Linked DNA regions of Homo sapiens. The protein of the gene in region 2 interacts with the protein of the main gene of each other region in a pairwise test. Each region holds a gene or a part of one and is shown on either strand. Other genes may lie near its edges.

Region 1 (4,269 bases), on a different chromosome or scaffold from region 2:
AGCGATTCTCCTACCTCAGCCTCCCAAGTAGCTGGGATTATAGGTGTGCGCCACCACACCCAGCTAATTTTTGTATTTTTAGTAGAGACGGGGTTTAGCCATGTTGGCCAGGCTGGTCTCGAACTCCTGAGCTCAGCTGATCCACCTGCCTCGGCCTCCCACAGTGCTTGGATTACAGGCATGAGCCATCATGCCTGGCCCCTCCTTTTTATTTATTTATTTATTATTATTATTATTATTATTATTATTATTATTATTATTATTATTTTGAGACTGAGTCTTGCTCTGTCACCCAGGCTGGAGTGCAGTGGCACGATCTCAGCTCACTGCAACCTCTGCCTCCCTGGTTCAAGTGATTCTCCTGCCTCAGCCTCCCTAGTAGCTGGAACTACAGGTGCATGCCACCATGCCCGGCTAATTTTTGTATTTTTAGTAGAGACGCGGTTTCACCATATTGGTCAGGCTGGTCTTGAGCTCCTGACCTCGTGATCCACTTGCCTCGGCCTCCCAAAGTGCTGGGATTACAGGCGTGAGCCACTGCGTCCAGCCTTTTTTTTTTTTTTTTTTGAAACAGAGTCTCACTCTGTTGCCCAGGCTGGAGTGCAGTGGCGCAATCTCGGCTCACTGCAAGCTCCGCCTCCCGGGTTCACACCATTCTCCTGCCTCAGCCGCCCAAGTAGCTGGGACTACAGGCGCCCGCCACCATGCCCAGCTAATTTTTTTGTATTTTTAGTAGAGACGGGATTTCACCGTGTTAGCCAGGATGGTCTCGATCTCCTGACCTTGTGATCCGCCCGCCTTGGCCTCCCAAAGTGCTGGGATTACAGGAGTGAGCCACCGCGCCCAGCACCGGCCTCCTTTTTATTTTTTAGCGACAGTTTCTCGCATTGTCCCCAGGCTGGAGTGCTGTGACGAGATCACAGCTCACTGCAGCCTCGACCTCTTGGGCCCAAGCGAACCTCTCACCTCAGCTCCTGAGTAGCTGGGACAAGAGGTGCACGCCACCATGCTCAGTTAATTTTATTTTTTGTAGAGATAGGATCTCACTGTGTTTCCCAGGCTGGTCTCGAACTCCTGGCCTCAAGCGATCCTCCTGCCTCGGCCTCCCAAAATGCTGGCTTGTGAGTGAGCCACCACTTCACGCACGGTCTCCTTTTGAAGTAGAATTAGACAATGTTTTACACCGTGCCAGTGAAAGCAAACTGTACTCTCTACGGCGCTAGTAGCAAAAGCAAAGAATTATTAACATGCCTAATAGGAGCCCTAAAAACTAATCCAGGTCTGCAAAAGCCGATCGACAACTCTGTAGTGATTTAGAAGAGAATTGCAAGACATTAACACAGAGCGTCCTAAGTGACAGGATGGTCTGGCGACCACATTTCCCGGCAGCCCTCGCACAGCCAGGCCGCTTCGAGGATTGGACTTCTCCGCAGGAGGCGGGTGACAGGGGGAGGGGATAAGCGTGAGGTACTGTGGGTAGGAGACGGCCGTCGGCGGAGGCGCCATTTTGTGTAGCCGCCGAACCTTGTTGGAGGTTCTGGGGCGCAGAACCGCTACTGCTGCTTCGGTCTCTCCTTGGGGTAAGTGCGGCGGCTGTCTGTAACGACGGTAGGTTCTTGCCATTTGGGCTGGCCCCCAAGCCTCCCTTGTCAGCTGCCGGAGGCGACTGATCAGCTCCAGCCGGTTCTGTAGAGGGGCTAAATTACCCCAGGCGTTGGAGGGCCGCGCCCTTCCTTGTTGCCAGCTCTGTCAGTTTCCAGAGGGTGTCCAGCCAGCTCAGCCTTGGGCCTGCTTCTTTCTGGCTGTGACTTTGCCCCTTGTGGATACACGTCCCCTAATCTTCAGCCCAACGGAGCAGTGGAGCCGTCGCCTGTCCCTCGGGCACTCCTTGGGAGCTCCCTGGCAGTCTCTGGCCGCCATCCCCCGCTCAACTGCAACTGAATCGCCCTCTCCGAAAAGCTGTTCGGTGATCGCCCATCTGCGGGTTTGGAACCTCTTGGGAGGCGGGAGGGGCATGTGCGGGGAGGGCAGGCCGGACGCTGGAGTCGGTCGAGCAGGCCGTGACGCCGCCATCTCGGCCGCGAGACCCCACGGAGGTGGGTGCCGGCACCGCCCGGGAGACAAGGGGCGGCACCAGTGAATATGCCCCGGGACTTGTTTCCCCCCAGTGGTTCTTTTTCATTTATTAATTTCAACAAATCGTTGAGCATTCGCTCTAGACTAGGCTTCCAGAGACTACTGGAACTGATTTTTCGGACCTCGCGCTCATCGAACGCGGTCCAGCAGTGTGATGTCTTATTACCAACGGGGGGCGGGGGGCCGGGCTGTTCACTACTCAGTGGTTTGTAGTCATAAGAACTGGCTCAAGACGTGGTGGTTATTGTTACCTAGGAATTAGGTCGTTTCTAGCTTTGCTCTTGTCTTATGCGATACGTTATTAATGTAGTAGATTTCAGTCAGCTCAGTATCCCAGCTTCTACGAGGTTTTACATTTTTCATCAGAAGTGTTTGAATTTCATGTTGCTCCTTGTATTAATGAAGACACTTGGATTAATGTTTTAACGGTCAACTATCCCACGGAGTTGCTTTGATACAAAACCAAGGAGCTGATTGTAGCTCTGCCCTTTTTGCTTTGTAATTCTAAGGTAGGAGCAGGGAAGGAGTCTTCTGCTTGCTCCGTATTATGATTCTGTTAAATCTGGAATCTAATATTTTAAAATATGCTTAATCTTCCGGTTTTGCTCATTGTTAACAAAATGTTAGCACGATTTTAACGTTGACAGTTTGTCCCCACCACTTCCCCACCTTAGATAATCACTGTCAATGATTTGAAGGTTTGATGAAATCCCAGCCTCAGTAGTATCCAAGCTATGGAGCTGCTGACTTAAGTGATCTCTGAGATTTATAGCAATTAATCTCTCTTGTCTCCTAGAAAAAATAAAATTTGAACCTTTTGGAGCTGTGTGCTAAATCTTCAGTGGGACAATGGGTTCAGACAAAAGGTAAGTTACTACAGTACGTGGCTTTGATCTCAACATTTCAGTGGGGACTGAACTCCTTGTTTAAAATAGTTTATCAAACTAATATATGAGTGTTTTGCGCCAGGCATTGCTAACGAACACCTTTATGATCCTGTTGTCACAAACTACAGTCTAGTGAGAGAATTAAAGTACTGTGTGAACATGCTGTGATAAAGTGTAGGGTGCTCTTAGAACACATAGGAAGTATGTCTTTTTCTTGTTCACAGCCAGGAAAGCTTCCTGGAGAAAATATTCTCTGGAAGGAAGCTGAAGGATAAGAAAGAATTTTAGGCAAAGAAGGGCAGGGTAGAGTGGGTCACTGAAGGTTCCCTGTGTGGACAGCAACCTTTGCAGAATCCAGGAGATCATACAGTCTGGCACTTAGCACAGTTCCTGGCTGTGGTAAGCAATCAATGAATGCCATTTCTTGTTATTGTTCCCTGAATAGCAAGATGATCCAGACTTAGAGAGCTGAGAAGCTTGGGACTGTGTGTTACATGAAGAAAGAAAGAGCCAAAGAATTAGTGGAAAATTAAGATGAGAGCATTTGGCTATTGTGTCACCTATGGGTACATGCTCTCAGACCATTTGATTTAAACACACACCCTTATTCAGCCATCTGCCTTTTTAGTATTGAGGTCAGTCCCTGTGGTAGATCACATTGACAGGCTGAGGGACCTTAGGAGATGTTCATGTCACATGGTATTTTAATGCTGTGTCAGCAGTCTGTGGTTCTAAATAGCTTACTAAATTAACATTTACCCCTTTGGGGTGTCTCAGTCCCATATTTCCTTTGATTCTTTTTATTAAATTTGTATATTCTAAATGAAGCCCTTATAAACCTTTCCTTTGCCTTATGATTGCACAGCAGTTTTATGAATCTGGTAAACAGTTTACAAAAGGTGTATTTTATCTGTGGTCAAATAGGTTTAAGCCTCTTGTTATTAGGTTTTCCCATGAAGCCCAGTGCTGCCCTTTAGCCAAAAATAAACCAGATGTTATAAGAAGAGTGTTCTCTTAAGGGGTGCTAGTTTTGGGTAACTATCCAGTTGTATCTGACAGACAACTAAGTTGCCTGATGGGGAAAAAAAAGACTAACTTAGTTCATCCAGGTTTTTGGTCCATTTTCCAGTAGGCATGATACCCTTGAGAGTAGATGAGCCAGGGATGTACTTAATTTCACCCTTTAAAATTGGGTGAAATTCGAGTAACTGCTTTCTTCCTGTTTTTGGTCACTAAGATCTGAATC
Region 2 (3,500 bases):
ATTGATACAATTTTTTTTTGTTTTAAAAGACAACAGCGGTTCAAATGCTACTGCTGAGACAGAGCAAGCAGAGAGGGGTTAAAGATATCAGCTTGAGAAGGCATCATTGATAAAGGGATTTTCCTGAAGTAATGTAACAGGATAGAATCCAAAGCACAGGTAGGAGGGTGGTTCTTACATAATTGGAAGGACATTTTCCAAGTACTTATTCCTTAGAAACAGGTATATTCAACTATATACAAATTGTATACTTGACACCTCCACTTGGATATTCTTAGAGGGATCTCAAATTCAATGTAATACATAAAAAAAAAACCCAGAAAAACATGAAAGCAGATGCAGGTAAGTTTTCAGACACTGAGCCTGTAATTTGAAGTTTTCCATTTAATGACTTCTTTTTTCCCTCTATGAAGTAGAAATCAAGGTCATACCCTAAAAAGGGGGAGGGAAGTAGAATAGGTTGTAAGGTAGATAAGGTATAAATAGCTGTTATGAAAACAGAAGATTCCTCATGAATGATATCGACACATATGCAACAGAGATCCATCAACTCACCTGCTGCACTGCCTTGAATTCCATCTGTAATTTTAGCGGAGCAAATAGACCCTGAATGTTTCTCAGTGTGGAAAAATTCATTTTATCTTGGTTGAGCTGGAACTACAAAAGACAATGTAATTTTAAACATTACACTCAATACTCTGCTTTCAAAACAGTTAGCAGTGGCATATATATAACACAATAGTTAGATGAAGAATTTTAATATCCATACCTGTAATAAAAACTAAGTATTTTTACTAATTTTTTCTGACAAATTTTAGACCACATATGTCTATATTTCATTTAGCATGCAGGTGTACTTTTACCAGAGTAAAATTACTACCAAAATTCCAAATTTATAAAAGTAAAGGAATGTGTCTCCTATTCAAAAGTAGATTTACAAGACAATCATATTTTAGCGCTTTTGATTAAAAGTACTGCAAAACTAGCAAAGGTGTAATTTGAGATCCAGAAAATGTCACATCCACTGACAAAAATAGTTAATTTCTAAGTATGAAGGCATATATTTAAAAGGATTCAGCAAAAGAAATAATCTGACCACTAAATCATCCTGTTAATTAAACTATGTTTAAACTCCACTTATTTTTGGTACTTGCCTCAGGGGAAAAACAAACATCTCTCAAAAGTTTATTCAATTTGTATTGGGTACTAATCAGCAATTTTTCCTGGATCATACTTTCACTAAGTACTGATATTACATTTAGGGAACTTTGGCCATAACTTAATGTATTTCAGGCAAAATGAATCGACTTGACTCATGGATTCTAAAACAGTTTCCAAAAATGGCTCCTAAGGATAGTGAATGTAATATGCAAACAGACTGTTACAAAGATTTGTCTGAGCTAAGGTGATTATAATGAGGTAAAGTCATTTCTTGTCATTTTTTATTACACGCTACTCTCTTGATAACATTGTCTTCTAATAGTAATCAAAAAGGTCATTTTGAACAAAAATCTATTGAGAGATTAGCACCTACTTGGGATATGACTATGAAGTTTGAAAGTAAGGTGACTAACCAAATGCTTTTTAATTACTTTAGCTTTACACAGCAAATTTTGACAGATGGTCCTTAGGGAAAACCTGCAGTATTTTATTATGGGTATATGATCTGAAGTTCTAAGTGAAGGGTTTGCTTTAAATATTGGCTTATCCTCATGATAATACAATTTTATTCTAAGAGACGGGTCTTGCTATGTGGCTGGAGTGCAGTGGCTATTCACAGGCACGATTATAGAGCACTACAGCCTCGAATTACCAGGCTCAAGCAATCCCCCGCCTCAGCCTCCCACGCCGCTGGGACTACAGGCACACCCCACCACACCCAGCAGTAAATGTAATTTTATGTATAATAACTCAATTTATGTAAATTTTGATGAATACAGCCATCTTGTAATGTGATATTAATACTGTAATTATCAATCAACATGTAAGTTAGCAACCGTGTGCAAAATTAGGCTCTGTGGCAACACACAACAAAACTGAACAGCCTACCTTGGAGATTATAATCCAGTTTGGAAGACATTATGTATGTATCTCAACCCTCCGCACTACTGATTTCTTGGGCCAGATAATTCTTCACTGTGGCAGGCTGTCCTGTGTACTGTAGGATGTTTGGCAGCATCCCTGGCCTCTACCCCATAGATGCCAATATTACATCCCCCCATCCCCCACCGCACCACTTGTGACAACCTAAAATGTCCTCAGACTTTGCCAACTGTTCCCTTGTAGGGGGCAGGAGGATGATCCTCCCCTAGTTGAGAACCACTGGTACAAATGATGATGGCCATCTTCCATCACTATCACCACTGAAGCTCCCAATCATGCAGAGCTACTAGAGGCCAGCAATATGCCAAGGATGGGCTATTACTAACTCCAGATGAGAAGACTAAGGCTTAAAGAAAATTAAGCAATATGCCCCAAGTTTACTTAGCAAAGTGGGGTGCCCACATAGTTCAACTACACAATCCATGCTGAAGGATTTATAATAGACAGTAAGAGTCACATAAAGAGTGAGACTGCCATTAGCTGGCTAAATGATTAAAGAAGAAGAGATGCAGTAGATGTATGTAAGTCTCAAAAAGATCTCTGAAGTTTTTAGATTCTTCACAGTTCCACCTAGTCTCACTCAGATTTGTCAGTTTCTCTTAATATGTATTGCTTAGAACTAAACCAATATTCCAAATCTAATAGCCAGACTAATACACAGGAAAATAATATAATCTCCCTTGATTTGAGCCCCATCTTATTAACAAAGCCCAAGACTGCATTAACCTTTCTTTTTAGTAACTAACGTAATCTGCTGGCTTATAGTGAGTATACAGTCAATTAAAATAGTCAAGTTTTACAGAGCAAGTCACTTTACCCTGCCCAAAGGTGTAGAATTCATTTTTTGAATCCAAACGCAGAACTTCACACTCACCTCTATAAATGTTTTCCTTAAATTTTGGTCTAGACTTTGGTCTATTTTATCACCATGATATAGTTCAATTATTCAACAGAATGAACTATCCTTCTCAACCTTTTTTCCAAAAACCTAATATACATTCTTTCTTTGGTTGCCCACAAGTCCTTGAAAAATACTTATCCTTCCTATGTGTCCACCTGACTACCTAAGATGTAGACAGAGGCCAAAAAGCCCTATCAAAATATTCCCTCCAAATTGACTATTCCCTAATCACCGTTCTCTGGGTACAGTTACCAACCTCATATACTTTACCCTACACTACTTTCACTCGGTTAATAATCCACCATGTAATCCTCAATCTTATCCCTTGTCAGATAATTTGATCCCTTGACTGACCCATTTGGCAACTGAGTAAAAGAGTGAACTAAAATTAATTTGCTGAGTTCATTCAGATGCTGATGATCACTGCTTACCCTATTAAATGCTCACAGCTCACTCAATAGTCCACTTAAGAAACAGTTTCAGGGATCAATGTTAC
Region 3 (3,500 bases), on a different chromosome or scaffold from region 2:
TGAGATGGTCTTACTGTGTCACTCAGGCTGGAATGCAGTGGCGCAATTTTGGCTCACTGCAGCCCCAACCTCCGTAGCTCAAGTGATCCTCCCACCTCAGCCTCCCAAGTAGCTAGTGACAGAGCAGGAGCATCACCATCTTGGACAAGCACCACCATTTTAAAGTGCCCCTTGATCAAAAACTGCCTAAATCCAACCCAAAGGGCATCAGCCTAATGGCTAATGTCAGTATGACCATAAACCACAAATGACATCTCCAACCAGAAACATTCCAACCGTAAGATAAACTCTCTCCCTGACCAGAGACAAGCCAGCCCCAAGATAACCTCCCCTCCAACCAGAGACATTCCAAACCCACAATGAACTTCTCCTCCACACAGAAACATTCCAAGCCTGTGATAGGCTCTCTCACCCTGAACCCTTAAATACACTTAGTCTGTAAGAGAGAGTACTCCTGACAGAAATCAGCCAGAAGCCCCTCTCAGGTTTATTCTCCAAAATAAACCTGTCTTTATTGAGCCATTTTTCATGTTTCTTTCCTCTTTCTTTTTAACTCTTACAGCTAGGACTATAGGCACAAACCACCATACCTGGCTAATCTTTGTATTTTTGGTAGAGATAGGGTTTCACCATGGTGCCCAAGCTGGTCTTGAACTCCTGGGCTCAAGTGATCCACCCGCCTTGGCCTCCCAAAATGCTGGGACTGCAGGTGTGAGCCACCACGCCCAGCCCACATTCTTAATAGAGCATTGTTTCAAGCTGTAATATTTAAGAATACAGAGAAAATGAAGTATAGTCAATACTCATTATTCTTGGTAGTTATGTTTTATAATAACGCTGAGAACACTGTATTAGTAAATACTGAACCATTGCTCCTAGGGGAACTACAGAGTTAGAGTCCTATGAGTCTCTGGTCACATTTTCATCAACCAATCAATACAGAGCCTTATTTTATGATGTTTCTGCTTAAAGACACCTTATTTAATATTGATTCATTAAATTATTGTTTATTGATTGATGATTCAATAACATTGAACTCACAGCCAACTGACTATAACTTGTGTGTGAACAAAGCTTATCTGACACACGTATTTCCTCCATGAGGCACACCACAGCCTCCTAGAATGCTAGACAGCATTTCAGCACTATGCTTGGAGGTCACCAATAAAAAGCACAGAAATGAGAAAAACATGGCACTAAAGACGTCATGAAAAGGACATTCTTTACAGTATCAAAGCTGAAACAAGAAGGCTGAGTGTTGCCTTGTTTGACCTGAGCTGGGAACAGGCATGTGGGGTGACTCAGATTTTTCACAGCTCTGTGTATGCCCACAAATGACTGCAAAAACACCTCAAGTACTAATTTTGAGGAGACAAACCTTAGCGAGTAGGTGAATTTGCAAATATGGCATCTGCAAATAACAAGGATTGGCTGTGTAAGGTTTATAGCACTGACGTCCTCCATGTTGGAAAAGCCATGCCTATGGCATAAAGTTGGAACACTTTTGTGACTGATCTGAATTAACTAAAAGAGGGATGACATGATTCAAAAACAGGATATGCCTGTAGTCCCAGCTACTCAGAGTCTGAGGCAGGAGGATCACTTAAACCCAGGAGTTCAAGTCCAGTGTGGACAACATAGTGAGACTCCTATCTCTGTTTAAAAAAAAGAGAGAAAAAAATAGGGAGGGTTACCATACAGGGAAAATCAGCTGACTCTATTTCACTGTCTTTTGGGTCACAGCCAGAGAAAATATATTACATTTGCACCTGGAAACATTCTAGTTAGAAATAAGGATGAGTGTTCAGACTGTGAAAGTTACAAGCTGTAGGTTACTCAAGGAGATGGAGCCATCCTTTTCTCTTTAAAACCTTTATATCAGGAAAGAAAGCCATCCATCTGGAAAGGCTGAAAGTAGTTCCCATTTTTGGTCCTATATCTCTGGGGTATTTTAAAAATAGCAGCTTTTATACTATATTTCTGGTGTTCTGGAGTATATAATACACTTCTGAAAGTTCTGATGGTGATTGTTTAAACTTGAAGATTGAATGAAAATGGAAAAGTACGTGTCAGCTCCTCTTCAGCAGAATGCCACCCAGTGTTAGCTGAGGCACCAGGCTTCCTTGTGAATTGTCTTGAACACCACTCCATAGCCTCTGAGAGGGCAGAGCCTCCTCACTCCCACCACAGTTCAGCCGGTTCCTAGCAGCTCCTTTCTGTGTGCTTCTCTCTCCCCACACTCCTGTGCTTTCCACACTCTGAGTGTTGGCTCACCCCTGCTTGTGTAAACCAAAATAGGAACCTCCACCCTCTACCAAGTCACTTGCCTCAGAAGTTTCACAAGCACTCGGAAAGAATTCTGTGAGGGAGGCCGGGTGCAGAGCCTCATGCCTATAATCCCAGCACTTTGGGAGGCTGAGGCGGTGGATCACTGGGGTCAGGAGTTTGAGACCAGCCTAGTCAATATGGTGAAACCCCATCTCTACTAAAAATACAAAAATTAGCCAGGCATGGTGGCGCATGCCTGTAGTCCCAGCAACTAGAGAGGCCAAGGTGGGAGGATTGGTTGAACCTGGGAGGTGGAGGTTGCAGTGAGCTGAGCTGGAGACACTGCACTCCAGCCTGGGCAACAGAGCGAGACCCTGTCTCAAAAAAAAAAAGAAAAAAAAAAAGAAAAAAAAGAATTCTGTGAGGGTCGGGTCGTGGAGAGGAAGAACACCAGGTTAGGGGTCGTCACAAGCCCTGTTGCTTCCTCCACTCCATTTTCCTTTCAGTTCTAGCTCTCCTCCCTCTTGTAAGTAAACGGGCAGGTGTTTTTCTTTCTTTTCTTCCTCGAAAACAATCATACTTAATTCTCCTTCCCCCACCCCAGAGATTATTGTAATTCTGTAATTATAATAATCTTTCTGATTTTTTCTTACAGGTTTTCCTCGAGAAGAGAGAAGATGTTTCTGCCATGTTAAGGGTTCAGAAAGTGAGCACATTTGGCGAAATAAATTTAAAGACTTGACAATAATTCCACAGTAGTAAGAAGATCTACCCTGAAGAATGTCATACTTTTTTTTCTCCTGGTGTAACAGCCCTGGCACAAGGAAGAAGTTGGTTCTGCCTGGATGATGAGGACCTTGGGAAGGGGCAAGAGACCAGGTCATACAGAAAGCAGCAAAAACCAGCCGGTGTGGCTGGGTCCATGTCGATAGACAGCACGGAAGAAAGAAAGAGCCTGGGAAAAGGAATAGGTTGGGGATGGCAGGGTTGTGAGTTAGATGGGAAGGGACTCTTTGTCTTATTTTTCCATTCTGAATGCTTTTCTCCCTCACGTTTTACATTTCACAATTTCCCTCACATTTCTGAATTTCTCTCACATCTCTGAAACTGTGATGCAACTTACATTAGAAAGCTTCCTTCTACTGCACTCAGCTGGGTGATGGTCATGACCTTCCATGGACACCCTCTGATAAGATCAAGAAAGTACTAGTATTGAGAATCTTCTAGACTTG
Region 4 (4,283 bases), on a different chromosome or scaffold from region 2:
GGGCATGGTGGTGGGTGCCTGTAATCCCAGCTACTCAGGAGGCTGAGGCAGAATTGCTTGAGCCCAGGAGGCGGAGGTTGCAGTGAGCTGAGATCATGCCATTGCACTCTAGCCTGGGCGACAAGAATGAAACTCTACCTCAAAAAAAAAAAAAAAAAAGTTCTCAGAAACAGCTTGGCTTTCTCCGAACCAGGCTCTCAATAGTATCCTGCAGCTGTCCAGGCTTTTGACCTGCTTCCTTGGCCTTCAGAACAGAACACCCAGCTCTTCCCCTCCACCGGCCCACCACCCGGGAGGCCCAAACAGCCTTTGAACTAGCACAAGGTCCTGGTTCCTTTCTCTTAAAGAACAGCAGGATCCGAAGCCTGCCCTCACAAGATGAGGAGGCAGCAGCTGAGAGGCAGGGATTTTTTTTTTTCTCATTGGAGAGTCTAAATTTGGTGAAGGAATCCAAAGCTCAGAAAGGTAAAGCAACCAGCTTGAGGTCACACAGCAAGTCAGTGCTGGGGCCAGAACACAGCAGTGAATGGGAGGATAGCCAAAGCCTCCAGGGAAGGGCTCAAAGCTGTGGGGCTATGCACACAAATGGGGTGAGGTCCTCGAGGTACAGATTAGGCACCCATTTTATAGGCCAGGTCACAGAGCTGGTTTACAAAATCCTGCTCAGAGTGTGGCCCCAGGTGGCAGGAAGAAGTGAAAGAAGGCCTCTAATCACTTCCTAAGCAGTGGAATCACAGGGAGAACTTACTGTCATTAAACCAGTATGATGATGGAGTGGGGAATGCCTCAGTTTCTCCCACCGCCGAGGGCCTATAGGACTACAGTTCCCAGGGCCCCGTGCTGCAGGCTAGCGGCCTCCCGCCAATGCTGGCCAGTAACCTGAGCATCCCTCTCCAAAAGGTCACTTCAGGGCTCCTTGAGGGACAGCAACAGGGGGAGCCTAGAGCTGCTCAGCTTCGGTGGGGGTGGAGTGAGGGCTGTGGCCCTGCCTCACACAACCTCCCTCACACCACCCCTGCAATGCAGGGTCGTGGGCCCCTTTCTCAAAGACATCCAGTGGCCTCTGCTAGTTGCACCTCTTCCGTCAGGGGACACTGACTTGGCTCCTGCACCACAGCCTGCAGGGGGTCCTGGTTCCTTTTGCCACAACACATGGCCTCCCATCCTGGTTCAGCCACTGACAGACAGCTCCCCAATCCAGCACTCTGCCTGCTCCTTCTTGTATCCAACCCTCCAAAAGGCAGGGACAAGGGACAGAAGACCATGTGCAAGGCCTGGAGGAAGTGGGTCAGCACAGGCCTGTGAACAAGCCAGGCCAGTCTTGGCGGCCCAAGTGGAGCTCACCTCTCCCTCCCCTCTCCTCTCCTCCCCTTGCCCTCAAAATAGCTCCCTGAGCTGCCAGGCCAAGACCCTCCCATTGCAGGGGAGGCGGGGCGTGCTGCCCAGAGCCAGGCTTTAAATCCCCTTGAGGCTGGGGAGCTCCACTCCTTGGCTGGAGGCAGTGCTGAGGCCGCCGTCCCCTCTACCATCAGTCCAGTCCGGCCCGCCCTCCTGCAGCCATGTCCCGGCCCCTGTCAGACCAAGAGAAAAGAAAGCAAATCAGTGTGCGTGGCCTGGCCGGCGTGGAGAACGTGACTGAGCTGAAAAAGAACTTCAACCGGCACCTGCATTTCACACTCGTAAAGGACCGCAATGTGGCCACCCCACGAGACTACTACTTTGCTCTGGCCCATACCGTGCGCGACCACCTCGTGGGGCGCTGGATCCGCACGCAGCAGCACTACTATGAGAAGGACCCCAAGGTGCTGCTGGGGAGCCTGGGGTGGGGGTATGGGCTGAAGGCGCTGCCAGGGAGCTGGCGATCTTGACTTAAGTGGCTGCCCCTCGTCACTCTAGGTTCTTGGGGGTGGAGAATCCAGGGGTGCCAGGCACAAGGGGTGCTGGGACAATCTGAGGGAGAAACCTGGGGCAGGAGTGGGGGTCAGGGAGCTCAGAGCAGGTGGGCTGGCTGCAAAGGGTCAGTGCCCACTCGGAGAAGGTTGGAGTGGGTGCTGGTGGGCAGGACGGCGCCTGTGGCCTGGCTGGGCCCAGGTGGAAGGACACATCAGTTGCTGCATGTATGCGCGGTGTGCCTGTGCAGCAGGCGGGGCTGGGGCAGCTGGGGCGGCAGAGATCAAGTGTCCGGTGGGGTCACTGGTAAATGTCAGCAACCTGACACGCCTCGGTGGGGAGTGGGGGAGGGGCGGGCAGACGGCCCAGGAGGGGACCCAGGAAACTGGGAGACCAGGCACTGGCAGCATCCTAGTTTCTGGTGCCTCTGGGTCTCCTTGGGATTGAGGCTTGAGGGCCAAGGGGAACTGGACAGTGCAAGGATGGGAGGTGACAGTCTCTAGCCCAGTCTCTAGCCACTGTGTGACCTTGAGCAAATGACTTTTTTCTCTGGGGGTGTGTGCAGGGGGAAGGGGTGCCCATTCTCCCGAGTACCTCAGTCCCTGAAGTGGGTATGGCCAGCGCTATTTCCCAGATGAGGAGACTGAGGCCAAAGAGAGTGATTTGTCCAAAGTCAGAGGAATGCTGGGACCAGAACCTTAACCGCTGGGCCCCAAAGCCTGAGACAGGGAGAAACAAATTGGGGACAGGGATGGGACTGCTGAGCAGGGCAGGCGGGCCAGAGGTCCAGGCGTGGCTGGGCCTGGCTGAGTGTTGGTGTGTGGCCCTGACCCCATTCCCTGCCCATCCGTCTCTCTGGGCAGAGGATCTACTACCTGTCTTTAGAGTTCTATATGGGACGGACGCTACAGAACACCATGGTGAACCTGGCCTTAGAGAATGCCTGTGACGAGGCCACCTACCAGGTGTGTGTGGGGTGGGGCAAGCCGTGGGGACTGGGGGATTCCACTGCTGACACTTGACCCTGACCACTGTCACCCTCACTCCTCCAGCTGGGCCTGGACATGGAGGAGCTGGAGGAAATTGAGGAGGATGCGGGGCTGGGCAACGGGGGCCTGGGCCGGCTGGCAGGTAAGAAGACAGGGCCGTGAGGGTGGAGTGGGCCGATGGGGTCCTCCTTGCTGGGTCCCTGACAGCCACCTCCCTGCACACCCCCAGCCTGCTTTCTTGACTCCATGGCAACACTGGGCCTGGCCGCCTATGGCTACGGGATTCGCTATGAGTTTGGGATTTTTAACCAGAAGATCTCCGGGGGCTGGCAGGTGAGCAGCCTTGGCTCTAACTTGTGGGGTCTAGTCAGGATGGGGAAGACCCCCACTTGTTTATCATCTCTGGCAAGGTCCGAAACAGCCCCGCAAGCTCTGTGGAAAGCATCCTTGCTGCTCCCCACCCCCCGACCCAAAGCCAGCTGGTGCCCCTGAAACAGGTGGTCCGTGTCCCACTCGATAGCCCAGCAGACCAGGGGCCCACCTCAGAGCTCCTGACTTATACTTGGTGTAGGGTACACCGGCCCACGGCCCCCACCCTGCCCCACCGTGCACTGTGAGTGCCTGTACTGATACTGCTGGCCTTTCTCCCTGACCTGCCTTGGGTGCAGATGGAGGAGGCCGATGACTGGCTTCGCTACGGCAACCCCTGGGAGAAGGCCCGGCCCGAGTTCACGCTACCTGTGCACTTCTACGGCCATGTGGAGCACACCAGCCAGGGTGCCAAGTGGGTGGACACACAGGTGAGGATGAAGCTGGGGGTCAGGGGAGCCCAGAGAAGGGGAGGGAAGAGAAGGAAGCCCAGAGAGGAAGCAGGACCCAGTGTATTTTACACCTGAGGATGCTGAGGCTCAGAGAGGTTAAGTGACTTACTCAAAGTCACACAGCTGAAGCCAGGAGAGACTGGAGACAGGGACACAGGGGAGCCAGCCTAAGTGCAGAGTCTGGAAGGGGAGAGAGGCTGCCCTGCTCCCCCAGTGTCTCCCCATGACCTGGCTCCACTCCACACCATGAGATTTATCAAAGGACCATCTTGGCGACTTGAGTCTGCCCTGAACATCTCGACAGCAGCAGCCCAGAAAGGGGGACAGGAGAAAACTGGAGCCTTCCGAAAGGAATTCACTCATCACACAGCAAGTTAGAGGGATCCTAAAACCAAACCAAATCTAGACACAGTGGCTCATGCCCGTAATCCCAGCACTTTAGAAGGCCGAGGTGACAGTATGGCTTGAGTTCAGGATTTCAAGACCAGCCTGGGCAACATAGAGAGACCCTGTCTCTACAAAAAATAAAAAAAATAGACTGGGGCAGTGGGTCATACCTGTAATCCCAGCACTTTGGGAGGCC
Region 5 (3,500 bases), on a different chromosome or scaffold from region 2:
GAACGGTATGCCAGGATAAAAACACTTCACCATAAAAGAGGGTTGTGACTCATCAGACAATATTTACATGAGAATTTCAGGTTTTATATTTTTCTGCTTGGTCACATCTATTTAAAATGCATTAATTTAGGAGTAATTTGACCTTTGATTGTATGCTGTAAATAGATTATGAGAATTTTTTACCTTGGTAAGGGAGGATTTTTTCCCCCACTCATTAATTTGAATTAATAGATTCATCAAATCTTTGAACAGGTCTTAAAGTAATCTAGGTCCAAACCCTAATTTTAACAATGAGGAAAGTTGAACTCAGAGAAGTTAAATAGCTTGATAGTTCCTCTATAAAAGAGACTGGTAGGTAGTCTACTGTTCCATCTGCTAGAGAAAGTGCCCTCTAACAGGTAATATGGGAAGGTAGGCAGTACTGTACAGTATGAGAGTTAAGCCCACAGGTATGGGATTATGATGGCTGCTGTTTCCATTTTTTAAAACCAACTGTGAATGTACATGGCTTGGATTTGAATATCACCTAAAAGTTCTGTGTATTTGGGAAAATTATTTAATCTTCCTGTGCCTCGGTTTCCTCATCTGTAAAATGGGGATGATAGAAATGCCTATCCTGGAGAACTAAATGAGGTTACCTGTGTAAAGCATTTAGTTCAAAGACTATGACAACAGTCAAAACCCCATAAATGTTCATTATTATTTCTACTATATTACATACCACCTTCATGATCAAAGAATTTCTTTCAAAAGTGAAAACATAAGGGATCAAAATCTAGCTGTTGAAATTAGTGAATGCAAAGCTAAGAATGCACATGTGGAGATTAAACTTCTCATGTCATCTAGTCTTAATTAGCGCTTTGTTTAACTGAGGTTACTAGACCACATATAGATAGGCTTCCACAGACACCCCTGTCTATACCACAGCCATTTGTATGCACATCTATTCTTAGTATCCAGTGAAACTGGGTTTTATTCATTTTATTTTTGCAATCTAGAAGTGGTACCAGAGAGAACAACAAATCTGCAACTGTACTCTTGCAGAAAACAGTTTTCTTGTGCCTTAGTGTGCTAAAATGAAAAGTGTAAAATATTTAAATTACCAAAAGTAAGTGATGAAACAGATGCCACCATCATCTACCCCAGGGCATGGGCACAAGGAGATTTTCCTCCTTGGGAAAATCTTAAGCTTGCAGAAGTGGTGGTGACCAAAAATGAGCAGTTACTTATTAATATAAATTTTTTAAAAAAGAGAAGAGTATTTCAAGGGACTCCCAACAACACACTAGGAAATTCACTTTAACGCCTGCCTGTATCAGGAATAATAAAGCAAAACACAGAGAACCTAAAATGTTTTTAAAGAAAGAAAAAAAGATATTGCCCAACATCCCAGTTGTTTGTGGACTGAGTGACAGGTCCAGCTGTCCCAGCTGCCGGCATGGGGAGCATGTTAAATATAGCACGCAGGGGTCATTCACATTCTGTGACCCTCCTTGTTATGACAACCTTTCTTTCCCCAGTGTCCTAAAAGTATGAGGATCTCCTGTTTCAAAGCTGAACAAGGCAATATGGGAGAAAATTTGACAAGAAACCTCACAGTTGTAATTAACCTCTGGTGATTCTATTTTATTTTTTCTTTTCTTGAAGCCTTGAAGATTTTGATATCTTTATCTGGTAGGCCAAGTAGATTTACTCATTCTTCTTGGTAATTATGAGCTACAATGTGATACTTTGGGGTTGTAGTTTTATTTACTTGTGAGATATTTGACTATCTCGATGACTTCTAAACAACATATAAAGTATAACTTTTTTTGGTGTACTTCTAATTTTTTTCTAACAGGCTCCACAATCTCTCATATATGTTTTTTTCAGCTCGATAGCATAGCATCTGAATGGGTTGGACTTCCACCTCTGCCTTCAGCCAGGTGTCTCTTCGGTCTGGGAGAGGTGGATGATAAAATCTATGTAGTTGCAGGCAAAGACCTTCAAACAGAGGCTTCGCTGGATTCAGTATTATGCTATGATCCTGTGTAAGTTGGCATGATATTCCTGTTCCCTAAGCATTCAAGTATATGCGTGCCTACAACATATTCATATTTTCAGAACCTGGAATTTACTGAAGGTATATAAATTCTGTCTCGTTTAATTTTAGGGCTGCAAAATGGAACGAAGTAAAAAAACTCCCTATCAAAGTCTATGGCCATAATGTGATTTCACATAAAGGGATGATATATTGTCTAGGAGGAAAGACAGATGACAAGTAAGTACCCTGAACTCTCATGATTTATGTCTAAATGACTTTTTATTAGAAGGGTTTCTTCCTCTTTTCTTTTCTTTTTTTTTTTTTTTGAGATGGAGCTTCACTCTTGTTGCCCAGGCTGGAGTGCAGTGGTGTGATCTCGGCTCACTGCAACCGCCGCCTCCTGGGTTCAAGCGATTCTCCTGTCTCAGCCTCCTGAGTAGCTGGGATTACAGGCATGCTCCACCACGCCTGGCTAATTTTGTATTTTTAGTAGAGACAGGGTTTCTCCATGTTGGTCAGGCTGGTCTTGAACTCCCGACCTCAGGTGATCTGCCCGCTTCAGCCTCCCAAAGTGCTAGGATTATAGGTGTGAGCCACCACGCCCGGTCTCTTCCTCTTTTCCTTTGGATCTGCACACTAAAATGGGACATGGTTCTCACCTATCATATTGTGGAGGGAAAATCTTAAAATTTCAAGTCGCTGAAGTAAACATGTAGATACTCAGCATACTGCTAGGAATGAGCCTAATACCCCAATCATAAGCATCCTTACAGTCCAGGCAGTATCTAGGAGCATAATCAAGTCCTGTATTTCACTGATTTATAATTGTATTTTACTACATTAAAACCAATGGGTTTTCTTATTCATTTAGCCATAAGTAGATAAAAATTGAAAGGTATCTTTAATGTAGTATTTAAAATATATCTTCTAAGACAACTGTGCATAAAAAATATCATGGATTTGTACTTTACATTCATAAGAGGGACTTTAGATAGGTCAGTTTGAAAGAAAAGCGTGGTGATTGAAAAGAGGGAAGTAAAAAAGACAAAATAAAAACAAAAAATTAAGGCAATTATTTCCTCAGCAGTGTTCTTCCACATATTTACTCCCTGACAGAGGTAATATTCAAAATGGCTTCCAACTGTTCAAAACTGAGCTCCCAGTAGCACCCAGTATCTTGTGAGAAAACCAGGATGAGGTTTCATATATAAACCTAACTTGATTTCCAGTCAATTCTTAAGGAACCTGTAATCAGGAAAGAGATGTTATAACCCAGAGAGAGGAGAAGTGAGCTCCGAATGCTTCAGAGACAGTCAAACCAGTATAACCTGTCTAGTAAAATAAGCATTTTCAGTTTAGATGGTGAGAACTAATATTCTGCCCCTGAAAAATCTGCCTGATTTGGCTTGTCATCATTTGCCCAGGCCATTGAATTAATAGTGATGTCCAACCCTGAAAAGGGAGCCAAAATTTAGAA
Region 6 (3,500 bases), on a different chromosome or scaffold from region 2:
TGAGTGAAAGAAGCCAGACACAAAACTATACACTGTATCATTTCATTTCAGTAAAGTTAAAAAACAGGCAAAACTAACACAGGTCAGAACAATGGTTATCCTTGAGGAGTAATGAAGGCAGTGACTGGAAAGGGACTCAAAGTGGACTTTTGGGGTCTGTAAGGTTCCGTCTCTTGATCTGGGCACTGGGTACACAAGTATGTTCTTGAACACATAAGACATGCACATTTTTCTATATGTATATTACACTTTATTAAAAAGTTTTTCTAAAAATCTAATATTTTCTCTGTACTTTCATCTTTCAATATCTGAAGTGTATTTACCTAATATGTTTAAATTTCACATATGGCTAAAACTTTGAATCTTAATTTAGACTGGCAGACTATTGCATGTTTCAGTGTAAAATGGTAAATCAATATAAACATGTCTTTTATAAAAGCTGGTCAGTCTGGAGTTGCCATTGACCTAGGATAGGGATCCCCCATAGAAGAACCTAAAAATTAGACATTTAAGAATTACTTCAGTGCTGGCTCCATTGTAAGATGGCTCTTTATCTGCCACAGAAACCGCTTTGGGAAGAGTTCTACATCCGTGATTGTGCAACATTCTAGTTTCTTGAACTTAAAGATGCATGTTCCCTCTATCCCATTTAACAATCTGTTCGCTGAACCAGTGGATATCATCACTCCCTGAGCTTCCGAAAGAAAAACTGATACCCAGGCCCCACCCCAGATAAATTAAGCAATTTGTATTTATTCCAACACAATAATCTAAAACTATGTGGTGTTTTTTTTGAGACGGAGTTTCGCTCTTGTCGCCCAGGCTGGAGTACAACGGCACAATCTCGGCTCACTGCAACCTCCACCTCCTGGGTTCAAGTGATTCTCCTGCCTCAGCCTCCTGAGTAGCTGGGATTACAGGTGCCCATTACCATGCCTGACTAATTTTTGTATTTTTAGTAGAGACAGGGTTTCACCATGTTGGCCAGGCTGATCTCACACTCCTGACCTCGGGAGATCCACCTGCCTCAGGCTCCCAAAGTGCTGAGATCACAGGCGTAAGCCACTGTGCCTGGCCTAAAAATACGCATTTTTGAAGCCACCTTCCTTTTCCCCAACTGGGTCATAAATGTGCAGCCAGGTTTGTGAAAATCTGCTCTAGGTATTTTTAGTCTCTGAACCTGATCAACCTCTAAAATCAAACTCAGAAACAGCATTCCTCTTGCCTTAAACACACAAACTCCACCAACCCCACTCAAGATGCCACCCAGTCTTTCAACACTTTGGCAGCTTTGGCTCCTACCACAGATATTTTCCAAAATTAGGAAACCATCACCCCGAATTTCAGACTACTCTCAGTCCTTGACAGGCATCTAAATCTACTATTTGGGAAGAATGGCTGAATAAGGACACTAATCTGATTCACACAGACCAGGCTCAAATCCTGGTTCCACCACCTACTAGCCATGTCACCTTGGGCATGTTAGAAATCTCTCTGAGCCCAATCACCTAAACTGTTAAAATGGAAACCATAACAACGCCTACATTTCACTGGGTTGCACAGTCACTAGAACATTGCTAGTTACTGACAGCTCCTTACATCTTCTGCTGTTCTGCTGGGGTGCCTTCTCCATGCCAAGCAGTGCACCGGAGTTTTTTTTGTTGTTTTTTTGTTTTTTTTTTGAGACAGAGTCTTGCTCTTTCACCCAGGCTGGAGTGCAGTGGTGTGATTTCGGCTCACTGCAACCTCCGCCTCCTGGGTTCAAGTGATTCTCCTGCCTCAGCCTCCTGAGTAGCTGGGACTACAGGTGCGCACCACCGCGCCCAGCTAATTTTTGTATTTTTAGTAGAGACGGGGTTTCAGCATGTTGGCCAGGATGGTCTCGACCTCTTGACCTTTTGATCTGCCTGCCTCGGCCTCCCAAAGTGCTGGGATTACAGGTGTGAGCCACCGCACCCGGCCTGCACCAGAGTTTTAATAGTGTATTTTGCTTTTAGATCAGAAGTTCTAAAACCTACCTATCAGAAAAAACAACAAATTGTGATATGAAAAAAAAATATATAGGCTGGGCGTGGTGGCTCATGCCTGTAATCCCAGCACTTTGGGAGGACGAGGAGGGCAGATCACCTGAGGTCAGGAGTTCGAGGTCAGGAGTTCAAGGCCAGCCTGGCCAACATAACGAAACCCCATCTCTACAAAAAATACAAAAACAAAAAAAGTTAGCCAGGCATGGTGGGAGGTGCCTGTAATCCCAGCTACTCGGGAGGCTGAGGCAAGAGAACTGCTTGAACCCGGAAGGCAGAGGTTGTAGTAAGCCAAGATCGCGCCACTGTACTCCAGCCTGGGCGACAGAGCGAGACTCCATCTTAAACAAACAAACAACAACAAGAACAACAACAACAACAAAATATATACGTGTGTGTGTAAGATTAAGACAAAAAAGCTAATGAACAGATTTTAAAGTTCCATATGTTTCCCAAAATAATTTTATTTTACAATTAGTGCTGACTTGATAGGTCACTTTAAATTGTCCTATGCTATGTTTAGGAACAGATACCAAAGGATTCCTCTTAACAAACCTGTATTTTTGGAACCTGTGCTTATTAAGGATAATCCAATCATCCCCATTAACTTTTCTTTGGCACTATAAATAACAGTTTTTTGTTTTTTGGTTTTTTTAAACAGTCTCGCTCTGTCGCCCAGGCTGGAGTGCGGTGGTGTAATCTTGGCTACTGGAACCTCCGCCTCCCAGGTTCAAGTGATTCTCATGCCTCAGCCTCCGGGGTAGCTGGGACAACAGGCATGTGCCACCACACCTGGGTAATTATATATTTTTTGTAGAGACGGGGTTTCGCCACGCTCACCAGGCTGGTCTCAAATTCCTGACCTCGAGTGATCCACCTGCCTTAGCCTCCCAAAGTGTTGGGATTCCAGGCATGAGCCACCACGCCTGGTCTAAAAACTAGTTCTCTATCAGATGTTTTCCTAGGAAAAATTAAATAATATAAACAAGCCTAGAAAAAGTTACTTTGAAACATGTGTACTTTTAAAATCTTTTTCTAAACTAGCCTTTTTAAAAAAAGATGAAAGATTAAGACTATAATACAATAGTATGATTCACTGTTCTCATGACTCCTTAAACCAAGTAAGTTGTAACGTTTATTATCTATTTCAATAAACAAAACATATGCTTACTTTGTCCCATCCTTATTTATATAAATGTAACTATTTCAAATTTACATTTTTTACTCAATAAGCAAAACTTCTTTTATTCTAGAAGTCTTTGTTGGAATCTTTAATTAATTCACGCTTTATTTATCTATTTTATTGAGACAGAGTTTCACTCCGGTGCTCAGGCTGCAGTGCAGTGGTGCAATTTTGGCACACTGCAACCTCTGCCTCCCAGGTTCAAGCAATTCCCATTCCTCAGCCTCCCAGGTACCTGGGATTACAGGCCCGTGCCACCATGCCTCGCTAATTTTTTTATTTTTAGTAGAGAC
Region 7 (3,500 bases), on a different chromosome or scaffold from region 2:
GGTTCAAGTGATTCTCCTGCCTCAGCCTCCCGAGTAGCTGGGACTATAGGCATGCACCACCATGCTCAGCTAATTTTTGTATTTTTAGTAGAGAGGGGATTTCACTGTGTTGGCCAGGCTGATACGGAACTCCTGACCTCGTGATCTGCCGGCCTCTGCCTCCCAAAGTGCTAGGATTACAGGTGTGAGCCACTGCACCCGGCCTCATCAGCTCTTTAGTGAGTGCCTTCTGTGTAAAGGCACTATAGCAGGCAGCACAGATAGAAGTGAATATCAGGGTCTTTGTCCTCAGATACTCAGTCTAATGGGGGAGACAGATGTACCTACTGACGAGGGCAGGAGGGGACCCAAGGGAGAAAAGGTCACTTCCAAGCTGGGATAATTCAGGAAGAACTTCACTTGAGCCGAGTCTTAGAAGGAGGATTGGATCTCTTCATTCATTTGTCTGATGTGTATTAAGCATCACTAGTGCGGAGCACTTTGCTAGGAGCTGGGAAGATTAGTGGTTAACACAGCGTCTGCCTCAGAGCCTATAGTCTTGTGAGGGAGACAGGTATTAGACAGGTAAATTCACATGAACCTAGAAGAATGCATTGTGATAAGTGCCCCAGAGGAAAAGAACAGTCATTAGAGAGGATAATAGGAAGGAGTGTGTGGCTGGTGGGTGTTTGTGTAGTCCTTTCTGAGCAAGTGACATTCAAGCATTTTCTACTGAACATAATTTATGAACATGACAGAACATTCAAGTGGGACAAAGAACTATAAGAAAAGTCTCCTTCACATCCCTCCAGAGTAACCACTGTTAAGAATTGTTTGTATTTTTTTCCAGAAAATGTGTTATGATAAACTTTCACGTATCTCCTTCTCTGTCATCTAGTTACCCCTTTAAAAAAAACACACAAATGAGCTCATGCTATACATAATATTCTTCCCTTACTATTAACTCGTTTTGAAGAAGTGTTTATATCAGCTTACGTGGGCCTATAGAATTTCTGTAATAATAGCAAGCTGTACAGAATTGTATTATGTGGCTACACCATGCTTGCTGACCCATTCTTCTTCTGATGAACATCTTGTTTTTCATATTTTGGTAACAAATGTGTCTTGGTCTACTTGTATAAATACGTACTTCATTTAGATAAATTCTTAGCAGTGGAATTTCTGGATTAAGGTGTACACGTTTCGGCCAGAATTCTCTGTTGCAAGCAGTTGAGTCACTGGATGATTTAAGGAAGAGAGGGATTTTTGAGAAAAGTATAGCAGGTGGCTCACAATGTAGTTGGGAGGGCAAGAACTGGGTTTGGGGCCAAGAACAGTGTCTCAGTCTATGCTGCGGGCACAGCTGGTGCCGGACCCTGGCTGCCACAGAACTGAGCCTTCCTGCCATCCCTTCCACCACCAGAGAGTTCCTCATGGGGAAGGTGGGTGCTTCTGATTGGTGAAGCTCAGCCTCAGCTCAGATGGCAGTGGAATTCTCCGGACAGAGGCAGGAAATACAGCTGCTGGGCAGCCCAGAAAAGGGACAGTGCATTTTACCTTTTGAGAGCTATTGCCAAATTGCTGTCCAAAAAGCTGGCACGAGTTTATACTCCCACTAGAGAATACAAGGACGCTTGTCTCCCACCACCTCACGGATGCTGAGTATTTTTGCCAGTCTGATGGGTGAAAGTGGGAAGAAAGAACACTTAAACGCCTGAGGGATGAGTAGGAATTTGCAATGCACCCCTTACCCCCGAGGGATAGACCTCAGGCCTGTGGTGCACAAGGGCTCCGTGTGGTTAAGCACTGAAAGGCCAGAGTTTGCTGCATGGGTGCGGCAGGAGCAGTGAGTGGGGGTGGGGCAAGGGACCCATGCAGGGGGTGCAGCAGAAGCAAAGATGGGGAGGGTGGAAGAGGGATGGATGTTGGGAGTTTGGAGCAGAGGCAAGGCTGGAAAGCAGGCCTCGGGGGTCCAGACGCTGCAGGCAGAGCTGTTTTGATTTTGTCCTGGAGGTCTCCTGCTCTTTCAAGCCAGGGAATGAGAGGATTAGGTTCGCTTGTTAGAAGGAGCAGCTGACAGCTGTGGGGAGCAGTGGCGTGAGAGGCCTGGGGCAGGGAGGGAGCTTGCATCCTGGCCAGAAATGTTGAGGGTGAGGACGAATCCAGTGGTGGTGGCGGTAGGGATGGCCACTGTCATTACAGAGACCTCTCAGACAGCAGCTAACCCCTGGGCCACATCCTGGGTTTCTGTCGTCATTCTCTCCTGGCGTTCCTCAGCGCCAGCTCCTTGCGGCTCTTGGCTGCAGTGTTGCAGTCACGCCTTCATTTGGGGCCATCTCCCTTTTCAGTTGGGCTCTAGGCCCTTTTTCTCATCTCATTTCCTGTTCTTCCTTCCCTTGTGCCCTGGGCTTCAGTGGCAGCAGCCCCCTCGCCCTCCTCTGAAGAGAGCCTAACAGCTGTTGCTGCCTCCTTTCAGAAACACATTTTCTGCCTGGAGTGTTCCTCCTCCTCATCCTGAGTGTGGCCCAGAAGCCATTCCCTCCTGGCTGCCCCTGGCGGAGTTAGCAAGTCCCTGCCAGGAGTGAAGCAGGATCCCAGGACTCCCGCCTTGGCCCCACTTTGCTTCCCCTAGGCATTGTCCCTCCTGCCCCTGCACAATTCTAGACCTCTGAGAGCAGCTTCTGTGCCTCACTCTCAGGGTCTCACGGAGCCCTGTGCAACTCAGTGAATATTTGATGGTGAATTAATTTTCTGATTCTCCAACTTGTTTGTGCTAAAGAATGTCTGAAACTTAGTGTTAGAAACCTTAGCCGCTGTTCATTGTTTGTGAACTAGCAGTTTGCAGCACCCCTGGAATGCAGTTGGTTTAGATTGTGTTCCATTTGTGTGGTCCCAGTTTAGCTGTAAAGTGTTGTAAATGTGACAGGTCCTTTTACTTTTTTTTTTTTTTTTTTGGTTAAAGCTTAGTATTATTTTGAATTTAAAGCATATTTATGGGAATGTCTCTGTGCCAGAGTCTGCTGGGTGCTGGCACATTATTTTCAGTTAAAATTCAGTGTAAGGGATGCTATTATTGCTATTTTACTGACGAGAAACCTGAAAGTTAGAGAGATTTAGCAACTTACCTAGTGTCACTCAGCCCCATAAGTGACAAAGCTGGGATTTGAACCCTTGTCTTCCATCTCTGGCAAGCCCCAGTACAACACAGCTGCTGTGATTTTATCATCCTACAGATGTGATTTCACTTAGCTATTAAGCCTTGCTTCTGAATACTAAAAATATTTATACAGATTCCCGAAGGGCACTTACTGGATTTTGTATTTTTGACTGTTCTCTGCATAGGTTCTCTGTCCTGCATGTTGAAAACAGTATTTACTGAAACAGCCTTATTGCAGCAAAGGAAATTAAACTATATATATGCATATATATCTCCACAATTTTACTACCCAAAAACAACGTGATTTTTACTTTTTGTTTCTTTCCAATCCAAGTCCATTGTGAAGAGGAGCTCTTTACAGAGA

Evidence for each region.
Region 1: the proteins of POMP (region 2) and RBM5 interact in a two-hybrid assay, tested with the Homo sapiens proteins (one large-scale study listed by BioGRID and IntAct).
Region 3: the proteins of POMP (region 2) and CAPN3 interact in a two-hybrid assay, tested with the Homo sapiens proteins (one large-scale study listed by BioGRID and IntAct).
Region 4: the proteins of POMP (region 2) and PYGM interact in a two-hybrid assay, tested with the Homo sapiens proteins (one large-scale study listed by BioGRID and IntAct).
Region 5: the proteins of POMP (region 2) and KLHL41 interact in a two-hybrid assay, tested with the Homo sapiens proteins (one large-scale study listed by BioGRID and IntAct).
Region 6: the proteins of POMP (region 2) and DCPH1 interact in a two-hybrid assay, tested with the Homo sapiens proteins (one large-scale study listed by BioGRID and IntAct).
Region 7: the proteins of POMP (region 2) and PSMB7 interact in binary tests that used the Homo sapiens proteins (3 or more experiments, as listed by UniProt).

What each region holds. Positions count from the first base shown.
Region 1 is NC_000003.12:50,087,450-50,091,718, forward strand, and holds the start of RBM5 (RNA-binding protein 5), read left to right. Parts: upstream 1-1,469; 5' UTR 1,470-1,580; intron 1,581-2,932; 5' UTR 2,933-2,985; coding exon 2,986-3,002; intron 3,003-4,269. UniProt on the Homo sapiens protein: Component of the spliceosome A complex. Binds to ssRNA containing the consensus sequence 5'-AGGUAA-3'. Regulates alternative splicing of a number of mRNAs.
Region 2 is NC_000013.11:28,665,630-28,669,129, reverse strand, and holds part of POMP (proteasome maturation protein), read right to left. Parts: intron 658-3,500; coding exon 556-657; intron 1-555. UniProt on the Homo sapiens protein: Molecular chaperone essential for the assembly of standard proteasomes and immunoproteasomes. Degraded after completion of proteasome maturation. Mediates the association of 20S preproteasome with the endoplasmic reticulum.
Region 3 is NC_000015.10:42,366,001-42,369,500, reverse strand, and holds part of CAPN3 (calpain-3), read right to left. Parts: intron 1-3,500. UniProt on the Homo sapiens protein: Calcium-regulated non-lysosomal thiol-protease. Proteolytically cleaves CTBP1 at 'His-409'. Mediates, with UTP25, the proteasome-independent degradation of p53/TP53.
Region 4 is NC_000011.10:64,757,175-64,761,457, reverse strand, and holds the start of PYGM (glycogen phosphorylase, muscle form), read left to right. Parts: upstream 1-1,483; 5' UTR 1,484-1,559; coding exon 1,560-1,802; intron 1,803-2,753; coding exon 2,754-2,855; intron 2,856-2,942; coding exon 2,943-3,021; intron 3,022-3,108; coding exon 3,109-3,212; intron 3,213-3,547; coding exon 3,548-3,679; intron 3,680-4,283. UniProt on the Homo sapiens protein: Allosteric enzyme that catalyzes the rate-limiting step in glycogen catabolism, the phosphorolytic cleavage of glycogen to produce glucose-1-phosphate, and plays a central role in maintaining cellular and organismal glucose homeostasis.
Region 5 is NC_000002.12:169,512,702-169,516,201, forward strand, and holds part of KLHL41 (kelch-like protein 41), read left to right. Parts: intron 1-1,872; coding exon 1,873-2,030; intron 2,031-2,152; coding exon 2,153-2,260; intron 2,261-3,500. UniProt on the Homo sapiens protein: Involved in skeletal muscle development and differentiation. Regulates proliferation and differentiation of myoblasts and plays a role in myofibril assembly by promoting lateral fusion of adjacent thin fibrils into mature, wide myofibrils.
Region 6 is NC_000006.12:151,458,966-151,462,465, reverse strand, and holds part of DCPH1 (damage-control phosphatase ARMT1), read right to left. Parts: intron 1-3,500. UniProt on the Homo sapiens protein: Metal-dependent phosphatase that shows phosphatase activity against several substrates, including fructose-1-phosphate and fructose-6-phosphate.
Region 7 is NC_000009.12:124,398,443-124,401,942, reverse strand, and holds part of PSMB7 (proteasome subunit beta type-7 precursor), read left to right. Parts: intron 1-3,500. UniProt on the Homo sapiens protein: Component of the 20S core proteasome complex involved in the proteolytic degradation of most intracellular proteins. This complex plays numerous essential roles within the cell by associating with different regulatory particles.